2 separate regions of the Homo sapiens genome follow, and region 2 is linked to region 1. Evidence: fine-mapped QTL for protein levels in blood plasma. Region 1 holds a variant in brackets. A gene starts in the other region. All regions are shown on their reverse strands. Region 1 overlaps DCUN1D4 (defective in cullin neddylation 1 domain containing 4). Region 2 holds the start of COX5B (cytochrome c oxidase subunit 5B).

Evidence for each region. PIP is the chance, under the fine-mapping model, that this variant and not a neighbour inherited with it causes the effect. The UK Biobank Pharma Proteomics Project read protein levels with antibody pairs (Olink). The fine-mapping took linkage between variants from a reference panel, not from the people measured, so its PIPs are less certain.
Region 2: it holds the start of COX5B, and the variant in region 1 is fine-mapped to the plasma level of the COX5B protein (UK Biobank, PIP above 0.99).

What each region holds. Positions count from the first base shown.
Region 1 is chr4:51,861,324-51,866,700 of GRCh38, reverse strand. It overlaps DCUN1D4 (defective in cullin neddylation 1 domain containing 4), which reads right to left. Exons shown (of 11, transcript NM_001040402.3): 2 at 3,194-3,264; 3 at 2,992-3,031. It also overlaps the pseudogene DUTP7. Among named protein-coding and RNA genes, the nearest start is that of DCUN1D4, 21 kb to the right of the region's middle. The variant G/A (reference allele first, on the strand shown) is at 2,954.
Region 2 is chr2:97,643,228-97,648,604 of GRCh38, reverse strand. COX5B (cytochrome c oxidase subunit 5B) reads right to left here and starts at 2,543. Exons shown (of 4, transcript NM_001862.3): 1 at 2,416-2,543; 2 at 1,465-1,538; 3 at 1,162-1,261; 4 at 222-609. The coding sequence starts at 2,518. The coding sequence ends at 497. RefSeq lists enhancers at 2,439-2,618, 2,799-2,848, 2,651-3,585.

The sequences.
Region 1 (5,377 bases):
ATAGTAACAATACTTATCTAATTCAAAAGTTCAGAACTACTAAAACTGGTCCAAAAGTTATATTCCTGCATTATTAGTGGTGGCTAAAAGTTAAACATATAAGCATAAGTGTACATAAATCAACAGGAGGCTGAAGGAACGTATTATAAAATACCCATGGATTAGAAAATTACAGTCATTAAAAAAGAAAGCAGATGCTTTATAAATGTGTTAATATGAAAAGATCTCAAGGATATACTGAGTGGAAAAGTGGCAAATATAAATGTACACTTGTATTTAAGGAAAAAATACATCATCATCATCATCATCATCATCATCATCACCATAATTTGGTTAACAAACAGAAGAGTTACCTCTGGAAAGTCAAACGTGGACTACTAGTGGGGGATGGAACCTAGGGGTGATAAACTGGGACAGAAATCTTCACTTTTTGTTTTATATTTTTTCAATACTTCTTTCAAAACTATGCGAATATACTGCTTTTAAAATTATTAAATAAATTGTTTTTGACTGTCCTTGAGTTGATCTATATTTGCTGATATGGAATGATCAGGTGAAGGGACCCTTAGTACCCCTGAACTCCTAGAACACTCCTAGCGCATTCTCTGCCTCTCTGTCTCACTCCTTTCCCTGGAAGAAGGAGTGCCTGATCTAAGTGCTGAGAGACTGAACTGAGCAGAGAGCCTGAAATGAGCAGAAAGCCCAACCCCTCTGAACTCCCTTTCAGATCTGCCTGCAGTGGAGCAAGCTGAAAGAGTATGAACACTTCCACTGTCATAGTGCAGGGTGTAAAGGGTCAGCAGGTATGCTGGCTTGTGCTTATCTAGTTGTGACAGTGATTCAGGTGAAATGCTGAAAGTCCTGTGCATTCTTGCTGCACATCTAAGTTGTGTTTTCCAAAAACACTGTTACTTCAGTCTCCATCTTACACCTAATTTTCAATTGATTCTGAACCAATTTAGAGAAGGTGGGGACAGTCTTAAATCTCAACAGCCCCCAAAATGCACCATTAAATGAAAAAGAAAAACACACTATAACACGTACAGTATGATATCACCAATGCTAAATTAAAAACCACGACTATAAACATATATGCATGCATACAAATGTGAGAAGGGATCCTGCACCCTCTCATTCCCTCCTTCGCTCACCTTCTCGTTCTGCCATGCCCTTCTCTAAAGAGATACCTGCCATTTCCCCCAGCAAGCTCTCTGGTCTGTGGAGGAGGTCAGCATGCAGCTCTGCCTTGCCCAGCTCTCCAAGCATACCACGGCCTGACCTGAGGGTCTGTACAGGCTGCAGGCTATGACCTGTACAGTGCCTAAGATGATACAATACCACCTATGGAGAAAGCTCTTGTGAACAGACATTTAGATAGAGCTCCTCCTTCCAGGTGTTGTGGAAGAGTAGCTCCACGCTGGCTTGGCTGCAAAACACTTTATAGATGTAGGAGGTGGTATCATAAAGGAAGATTACAGAGGAAATGCTGGTGCTGTACTGTTTTATTTTGGCAAAGAAAAGTCTGAAGTCAAAAAAGGTGATTGAACTGCAGTTCATTTGTGAACAAATCTTTATCCAGAAATAGAAGTTCAAAGCTTTGGATGACACTGAAAGAGGTTCAGGAGGTTTGGGTTCCACTGGAAAGAATTAAAACTTATGCTAAGAATAGAAAATGAGAAATCATACCTTTTTCTTAAAGAGTTTTTGCTTTGAAAAAAAAGTCTGAAAGAACCAATGTTAAACCATGTGCTGGCAGAAAGTGACAGCTGTCACTTTTCACTCTATTTAGTCATCTAAAGAGACGTCTAAATAGTTGTCTAAAAGACGACTGTAACTTTCCACTCTATTTACTTTTGTGCTATTCAAAATTCCCCAACAAGCACTGCTATGGCCTGAAAGTTTGTGCCCCTCCAAAATTTACATGCTGAAAGCTAATCCCCAGACTGCTGGTAGTAAGAGGTAGAGTTGGGAGGCAATTAGGTCAGGGAGGTAGAGCCCTCATTAATGGAATTAGTGCCCTTATAAAAGAGGCCTGAGGGAGCTGCCTGCCCCTTCTGCCATGTTAAGATGCAGTGAGCAAGAGGCACCATCAGTGAGGAACAGACCCTCACCAGACCCAGGATCTGCTGGTGCCTTCACCTTAAACTTACCAGTCTCCAGAACCATGAACAATCAAGTTCTATTGTTTATAAACTACTCAGTTTAAGGTATTTTTGTTACAGCAGCCCAGACTAAGACAAATTTCAATTCGTCTATTACTATGGCCATTTTCAAAAACTTTAAAATGTGTTTAAATAATTTTTGCTAGGATTTTAGTAACCATAGATCAAATGCAAGTTTCTGGACTTGATGATTACTAACAGTTGAGAGAAGTGGTTCTCAAAGAGTGGTCTCCAGACCAGCTCCATCAGCATCACATAGGAGCAAACTCTGGGGCCCCACCCCAAGTCTACAGAACCAGAAACTCTGGGGTGGAACCTAACATCTGTACTTTAAACAAGGCCTTCCCTCAGGTGATCATAATGCCAGCTAAACTCTGAGAACCACAGGGTTAGAGGATAACTTATACTAATCAAGCTTCAATTTTCTGATTTCTAAATCTTCAGTAACTATGAACACATACACACACACCATATTAAATCATTTTTCAGCTGAATTTCTCAAATATTTGTGGAATACCTTTCAAATTGCATTACTGTAGCACCTTTTTAATATAAATGAAAATACTGCAGTAGAGAAAACAAGGTATCTTGAAACTATGAGAATCCCGAGCCTCTTTAAAGGCATTAAAAAGTGCTTCCAGAAGAGATTTCCTACTGGGAAGAAGCTATAACATGGCTGCCTTCATTACTCCCTGAAAAACAACCTCAGCCAAGGAACAATTTGTTAATGGAGTACATTATGACAACATAGCGCATTCATAGCTAGTATTTCTCTTTCCTAATATTAAGAA[G/A]CTATTTAAAATTAAGTAGTGTTAGCATTTACAGATACCTGTTTGGTGATCGTCTTGGCCAATGTCTTCTGTTAGGTTCTGAAAGAAATATGTTCGTTATTACGAAGAAATCACATACCGTTAGCATTTTCATAAACAACTGATATCCTAATATCTAGAATCTAAATTTTTATCAAATACACTTATACAAAATGACTACTTCAAACAGTTGGTAATTTTGTCTTTAAAAGAATGACTTACCAGCTTATTAAGGGTGTGGTAGATCTTATGAATATTTGCCAGTGTTGAGAGATGAGAGTTCAGCTGAAAATCTTGAAAAGAAAAAGGAAAAATGTCAGCGTCATTTATTTCCAATATTGTAAAAAAACAAACTCAGAAAATAAACAAATGTTTTGATATAATTAAATACTATCTCAATTAATTTGACACTAAAGTTTTTTAAAAACATGCAATTAGTGACCTCCTAGAAATAGTCTGACAATAAAGTTAAATTCCCAACCAAATGTTAAAGTTCATGAAATTTTCATGTGAATTCTAAGGTAAAACAAAAAGTACTTCAGTAGTTATAAAATCCTGCCAGCAGTGAACTTGAACTTAATAGAAAGATAAGTCTCAAATGAAATGTTCACTTTCCCCTCTCTTCCCTAGAATTACTGGTACAATTAAGTAAGCTCATGGCAAGAAAATGATAGAAAAGCATCCCAACATTAGTATTTATTTTTTCTTTTCCTTTTTTTGAGACAGGATCTCACTACGTTGCCCAGGCTGAAGTGCAGTGGTGCAATCATGGTTCACTGCAGCCTCAGACTCCCAGGCTCAAGTGATCTGCCTGAGCCTGCATGGTAGCTGGGACTACTAGTGTGCACCATCATGCACAGCTAATTTTTCTTTTTTTTTTTCTTGTAGAGACAGGGTCTTTCTATGTTTCCCAGGCTGGTCTTGAACTCCTGGGTTCAAGTGATCCTCCTGCCTCAGCCTCCCAAAATGTTGGGATTAAAGGTGTGGGCCACTACGCGCAGCCTCAACTTGAAGTAAAGTATGTTTGCATATATATTAGGCAATAAAAATGTAAGCTGAAAGTTTATTAATAATTTCATATATAAGTACCACTGGAAGTATTTTCACAAAATATCAGGATTTACATTAGTTCCTTCTTTCCTATTAAAGGTTAGTATGAAAATGACCATGAAAAGATATTGTAACTCTCCAAGTTATACCATTCTGACAAAAAGAAAGAAAGAAAAAAAGCTCCCTTTACTGAAACATTTTATTTAGGACACGTATCAGATCCAAAGAACAGATCCAAAGAGCAGGTGCTACAATATCAGGTGTCTGTGCTTGGGCTGGATCCTCTGTGCTGCTACTCTGAACCCTGAAAACAAGCTGGCCTCCCTGTTCACAGTTAGAAAGCTTTACTTTCTCTTCTAAAGCTTGTTGGGCATCCAGTTCTGAGTAGGTCTGCAGGGCAGAGGGGCTGGCAGAAGCAGAGCCCCTCACATTCACATGCAGTGTCAGGAACAGCAGGTCATACCTGTATACATACATGTGCATATGCACTGTTCACAGTCATAGCCATATAGAATGGTCCCCAAAACCAGCATTTTGTGCTGAGAGACAGCCAGAGCAGGGCCTCAAGCTCTAAATGGCCCTCCAATATAGACATGCTTGAATTGCTTAGCATCTGAATAGCCCAGCCATGCTTAAGGTAAATGATGACATAAAGTGGCTGAGAATCTGGATTTTTCATCTAAATACGACTGCACAGAGGTTTAGAAAAGTATGTGTATTATACACCTATTTATTTACATTTATATTTATTAAACGTGAACAGGGGTAGAAGCTAGAAGCTACAGCCCTCTCACCAGCAAGAGGCCTCTCAGGACCAGCAAGAGGTGCTGAGGAGCTTGAACATTCAACTCTTGCACCTCCACCCCATCCACTACCAAGCCATAGCCCCCTTTTTGTACTCTCTCAGATTAAATATAGGAAGACAAATGATACATTCCATTATCACCTTAAAATATGAAGTTAAACTCTTGGGCCCCCAAAAAAACAAAAAGCAAAAACTGAGAAAACTTTAGCCTCTTGATTCTCTTTTCACTGAGGGTAAGGGAGGGGAGAGAAAAAGGGGCTTGCCAAAAGCCATTCCAGCAATGAGGTCTCTTCTAACTCTCCAGGCTATGCTTTTGTCATTTCACCACCCTGCTGTTAATTAAACTCCCAAAATTCCCATAAGAGAATCTAAATAAACCAAAACTGTTATATCTTTCTCCCTCCTTTATATAAATGTGGAAGAAGTAGAAAAGACAAGAAACACAAGTTATCCTCAATCTGGAATTCCAGGACTTCGGTGAGCTGGGCCCAACTCATACTCCAAACATCTTTCACCACCCCACTCCACAAAACCCTTCCTTCCAACCCCAC
Region 2 (5,377 bases), not on the chromosome of region 1:
AAAATCCCCAAAACTCTCTTCACAAGGCCACCCTGTCTCTATGAGGATACTGTGAGGACCTACTATCCACTCAGCTCTTTACATATTAAGCACCTTGTAAGGTACTTACCTTTTTGTAGTTGTACTTGACCCCCAGAGAACATGTCCACAGAGATAGAGCCAAATGATGGAGCCAATATTTTAAGTCCTGTCAGCCTGACTCCTCAGCCCGCCCCTTTCTCTCATACCAGGTGGTCCCATTCATTGCATTACGGGTTGTCGATCTATTCTTATTATTAATCTAAGCACTATACACTGGTTATACACTTTCAGTAAGTGGATGGCAAGCTAGCATTAACAGACAGCTTTTCCCAAAATAAGCATATTCCATGCCTACCAAAGAATACGGGTAAGAAATAAGACCAGCCATCTATGGGAGAAGGAGCCAATGCAATGGCTAGTCTTTACTGGAAAGAAGAAACTTTACAGCACATTTTGAGTAATTTAGTGCAGGTGCTCAGTGTGCCAGCTGCTGGGGCACCAGCTTGTAATGGGCTCCACAGCGGGGGCATCGCTGGGCCTCGCCTTTGTGCAGCCAAAACCAGACGACGCTGGTATTGTCCTCTTCACCTAAAAGGGAAAAAAGGTGGTTTATGGTCATCCAACCTAGAAAGGGAGACTTTCAACATGAATTTCTTTTCCTCAGACATCTCTGATACACAAGTAAGACTATGGTTGATATCTTAAGAGATCAGTTCAAGCCCTCCTCCCATTCTTCAGATGAAGAAATTGAGGCTCTGAGTTCACCTATGAGTAAACTGACCTTGTATCAAGGTCACTGTAAATTCTAACAATTCCCTTGCCTATGTAGAACGCAAAGCAGGGTCCGTTCTGGTATGTATCCCTAGTGTCTAAAATGATGCCTGGCATAGAAGCAGTATAACAATAAATATTTGCTGGGTGGGTACTCCTTCATGCCGCACTCCCAGTGAGCCAGTCTTACCGCTGTGCTGCGCTTCTTTCCAGTAAGGATGAACTATCAGGCATAATGAGGCTTGAGAGTGTCAAGACCCTTAGACAAACTTACCAACATGCACTCACACACTGAAGATTTGAGGCAGCTTACACACTATTGTAGGATATATTAAGCAAGTGGATAAAAAATAGAGGTGAGGTACTTACAGATGCAGCCTACTATTCTCTTGTTGGAGATGGAGGGGACTAAATTAGGGTCTTCCCTGGTGCCTGAAGCTCCCTTTGGGGCCAGTACATTGTATGGGTCCTGAAGAAAAAACAAAAAACAAAACAAAACAAAAAAAACAAGAATTGAACCATTAGGCCAAATAAGCCCTACCTTCCAGAAGCTCAGGGGACTGTTCCTACAAGCCAAGTTTCCTGTATCAAATACTCCCAGAGAGGAGACCACTATGAACACATCCAAGGCCATAAGTTACACAGAAGACACAGAAGGGAGTTTCTCCTTACCAGTCCCTTCTTTGCAGCCAGCATGATCTCCCTCTCCAACCCAGTCGCCTGCTCTTCATCAGTGGGAACACCACCTAAAGGAAGATAACGTGAATTATGACGCTGACTGAAATGACTGATAGAAAAACTACAAACAGAAATGATCAAGGAAAATGGTGCCCCGAAACTTCTGTATAAGTTTTAGCGGGCTCACAAGCTCCTAAAGGCTACTCATATCCATGGTCCCCTAAGAACCACCAAGTACCCATCCACACAAGCGGCAGCACTCGGGGGAGCTTTTTTTTTCTTTTTTGAGACGGAGTTTTGCTCTTGTTGCCCAGGCTGGAGTGCAATGGCGCGATGTTGGCTCACGGGAACCTCCGCCTCCCGGGTTTAAGCGATTCTCCTGCCTCAGCCTCCCGAGTAGCTGGGACTACAGGCGCGCGCCACCACGCCCGGCTAATTTTTGTATTTTTAGTAGAAACGGGGTTTTACCATGTTGGCCAGGCTGGTCTTGAGCTCCTGACCTCAGGGGATCTGTCCGCCTCGGCCTCCCAAAGTGCTGGGATTACAGTTGTGAGCCACCGCGCCCGGCCTATGAGCTTTTCTTTCTCCAACCACCGAGGCAAATTTGTCGACATTTGTCTAAAAGCATGTAGAACCCACTCTGCTTGAGGTGGGCGCAGGTTTGAAGGGAGGCCGGACCCCTCCCCATCCCGGTGGCAGCCCCGGTCCCTCCCAAGGTCACCCGGCACCTCCGTTTAGGATACTTTCGCAGCGGAGTGAGTTCGGGGAGCGGCAGGAGCAGCGGTCCAGAATTACAGGGAGATGCCTGCAGAGCCTGAGGCACTGGGGACCGTAAAGCGGCCACTGGGACCTCGAGAAGCTGCACGAGCCGCGCCGCTTTGCCGCCCTGGGACCACCCTGGGAGGGCAACACTCTGGTCCCTGGCACGCCCGGAGACCCGAGTACCTCCAGATGCCATGGAGCGCATCGCGGCCGCGCCACTGGGGCCGCGAGCCCTCAGGGCCTGCGCGGCCAGCGTTCCAGCTCCGCGAAGTAACCTTGAAGCCATTGCGTCCGCGACTAGCAGCAAAACTTCCGGGAACAAGCTGCAGAGACAGGAGGGACTTCCGGGGGCGGGCTTCTTTCTCCTCTCGGTCAGCTTTCGGCTTCCTCCCAGCCCTCGAGCCCGCCCACTCCCAAGACTGTGGCGGGGGCGGAAATTGCGCATGCCCAGCTCTGCCTCTTTCTGCACCGCGTAGTGGCTGAGGCTTGGGGGCGGGGTTGCCTTTAATAACGCTGGGAGGTGGGAAAGTCTTTTTGGTCCCTGGAGTTGAGCGGCTGAACCACATTGGAGTTCCTGTGGGTCTGGCCCCGTAGTCGTGTTCAGCAAACGTGGAGGCTGCTAATGGAAGCTATTAGGTCCCCGTCTGTGAAGAGACTTACTGAACCCCAAATGATTTGAATTTAGAAGTGGGCTCCTAAAGATCACTGCGTTCCTTACTAGGCTGGTTAGTGGCAGGGCTGGTTCTGGCAGTGCGTGGGCCGTCGCGAGCGTGTCGCATTGGACGGGACCTACCTGCAGTCCTGGCCCAGTTTCGTGTTAGAGTTGTACTGTGTGTGGGAGGCGCGGAGGTCCCGGCCTGGGGAGGAGGACAGGGCCGGGGGCGGGACCCCCTACCAGGACCAAGGCCCTGGTGATGTGAAGGAAGTGGCCACTCTTTTTCGAGGCTACTAAGGGAGGAGGAGCAGGAAGGGGAGTTGATAATAGGAAATGGAGTTAGAGCCTGCTGTGACTGGAGTTCCTTGTTTGAAACGGAAAACATATTCCGTCCATGGCTTCCCGTTGCCCATAGGCTAAGATGTGCAAATTTCTTAGGGTGAGCTTTAGTCAGTATAGCCCTGTGACAGGCTAGCTGCATGCGGTATCTGAGTTTCCCTACCAGATAGAAAAATCCCCTTAGAGTGGGAATTAATGCTCATCATTGAATCTTCAATGCCTTGCAGAGGTCTGGTATATAGTAGGATCCAGTAATTTTAGTAAATTTACTACTTGGATAGAGTATACAAAACCAGTTTATAGGGCTTTTCCTGGCCCAGTGAGGTCAATTGGAGGCAACATGGGGAGAGTTGAAGGCTTAGGTGCTCCCGCCTGTCTCATGCAGGCTACGGTATTTTCAAAAGGACGTGGTGGAGCGTTGCTTCACAGGAGCACGTCTGGTCTTCCTGGGTGCCCCCTCCACCAATTAAAAAAAAAAAAAAAAAAACCCTGTATTCTAAGGCCAAAATTTCTTTAAAGGTGGTTTTTGCTTTGAATGGCTTCACTGTTACTCCCTTCTCCCTCACCTCCACTGCAACCCCTCCAAGTTGAATTGGGCGAAAATTCTGAGGATCTGTAGTTAATTTGCAACTGTGGTTAAGGTCTTAGGCAGGAGAAAAAAGCATTGGTCTGGAAAGTAGCCCCACCAGCTAGTTCAGCTACTTTTTATCCTTTGGGCCGCCATTTCTACATCAGTAAAACTGTCGTTCAACTAGGTTAGTATTTCCCAAAGTGTATTGCATGGCATCCAAGTCTCAAGACATGATCTCAAGAAAAAGGACTTGGTCAAGACAGGGAGGGCCTGCATTTGATGACCACCCTTTTGGAGATGGACACTAGCATAATAAAGGCTCTGATTAGGCTTGCAGTAAAGACCTCTTATTTAATTTACCTGCAGTTTAAGCCAGAGTTTCCCTGTCTTAATTGACCACAAAATCCTTTCTGAGGAACACCTACTAACTTGCCCCTCAGCAAACCAGTGAGGTATTCAGCTCTGATATGTTATGATTCCCTGCTGCCTGACCAGAAGTGGTTTACTCCAGGCTATAAAATGGAAATTGAGTTTAGGCTTCTCACTCTCATAGTAGGCTTGCCTAATAATAGGAAATTTTCGCAGGCCCTCATCCAACTCAGGAAAACCTCAGCCTCACTCTGGGATTATTTAGATTGTGTGAGTGAGCTCCAAGGTCAGGTCCAGGCTCCCCAGATGTCCCCGCATCCCTTGCTGCTTCCAGCTCCCACCACTGTCAACTCACACCCAGTCCCTCAGGTCTCCTTTGGAAACAGTTGGCTTGGGGAACAGTCTGCCACCTCTGCTCTATCATTGTCTTTGCCAGCACAATAAACTTATTTTTATAGGATAATTTTCAGTTGTCAAAATAAATGTACATTATAAGTTGAACAGCACAGATATATAAGGAACAAGCTAGCAGTTTGGTGCTTATCCTTTTTTTCCTTTCCCTATGACAGAGTTTCTCAAGCTCAGCACAACTGACATCTTGGGTTGATAATTCTTTGAGGGAGGTTGTGCATTGTAGGATTTAACCCTATGTCATTAGCACCTCCCTGACATGATAACCAAAAATATCTTCAGCCATTGCCACATGCCCCCTGGATTTGCAAAATTCCCATTGAGCATCACTGCATATATGAATATAAAATATAAAAACATAACTACTATACAAAGTTTTAGTTAGTTGCTTCTTTCATTAAAAAATATTTTGTAGGCTGGGTGCGGTGGCTCACACCTGTAATCCTAGCACTTTGGGAGGCTGAGGCAGGCAGATCACCTGAGGTCAGGAGTTCAAAACCAGCTTGGCCGACATGGCGAAACCCTGTCTCTACTAAAAATACAAAAATTAGCTGGGAGCGGTGGTGGGCGCCTGTAATCCCAGCTACGTGGGAGACCGAGGCAGGAGAATCACTTGCACCCGGGAGGCAGAGGTTGCAGTGAGCCAAGATCACATCATTGCACTCCAGCCTGGGCGACAGAGCAAGACTCCGGCTCAAAAAATATATATATTTTGTAGATGTCCCTTCAGATCAATACATCTAGATCTTAACTTACGTGATGGCTGCAGAATATTCCCTACTGTGAATGTACGTTAATGT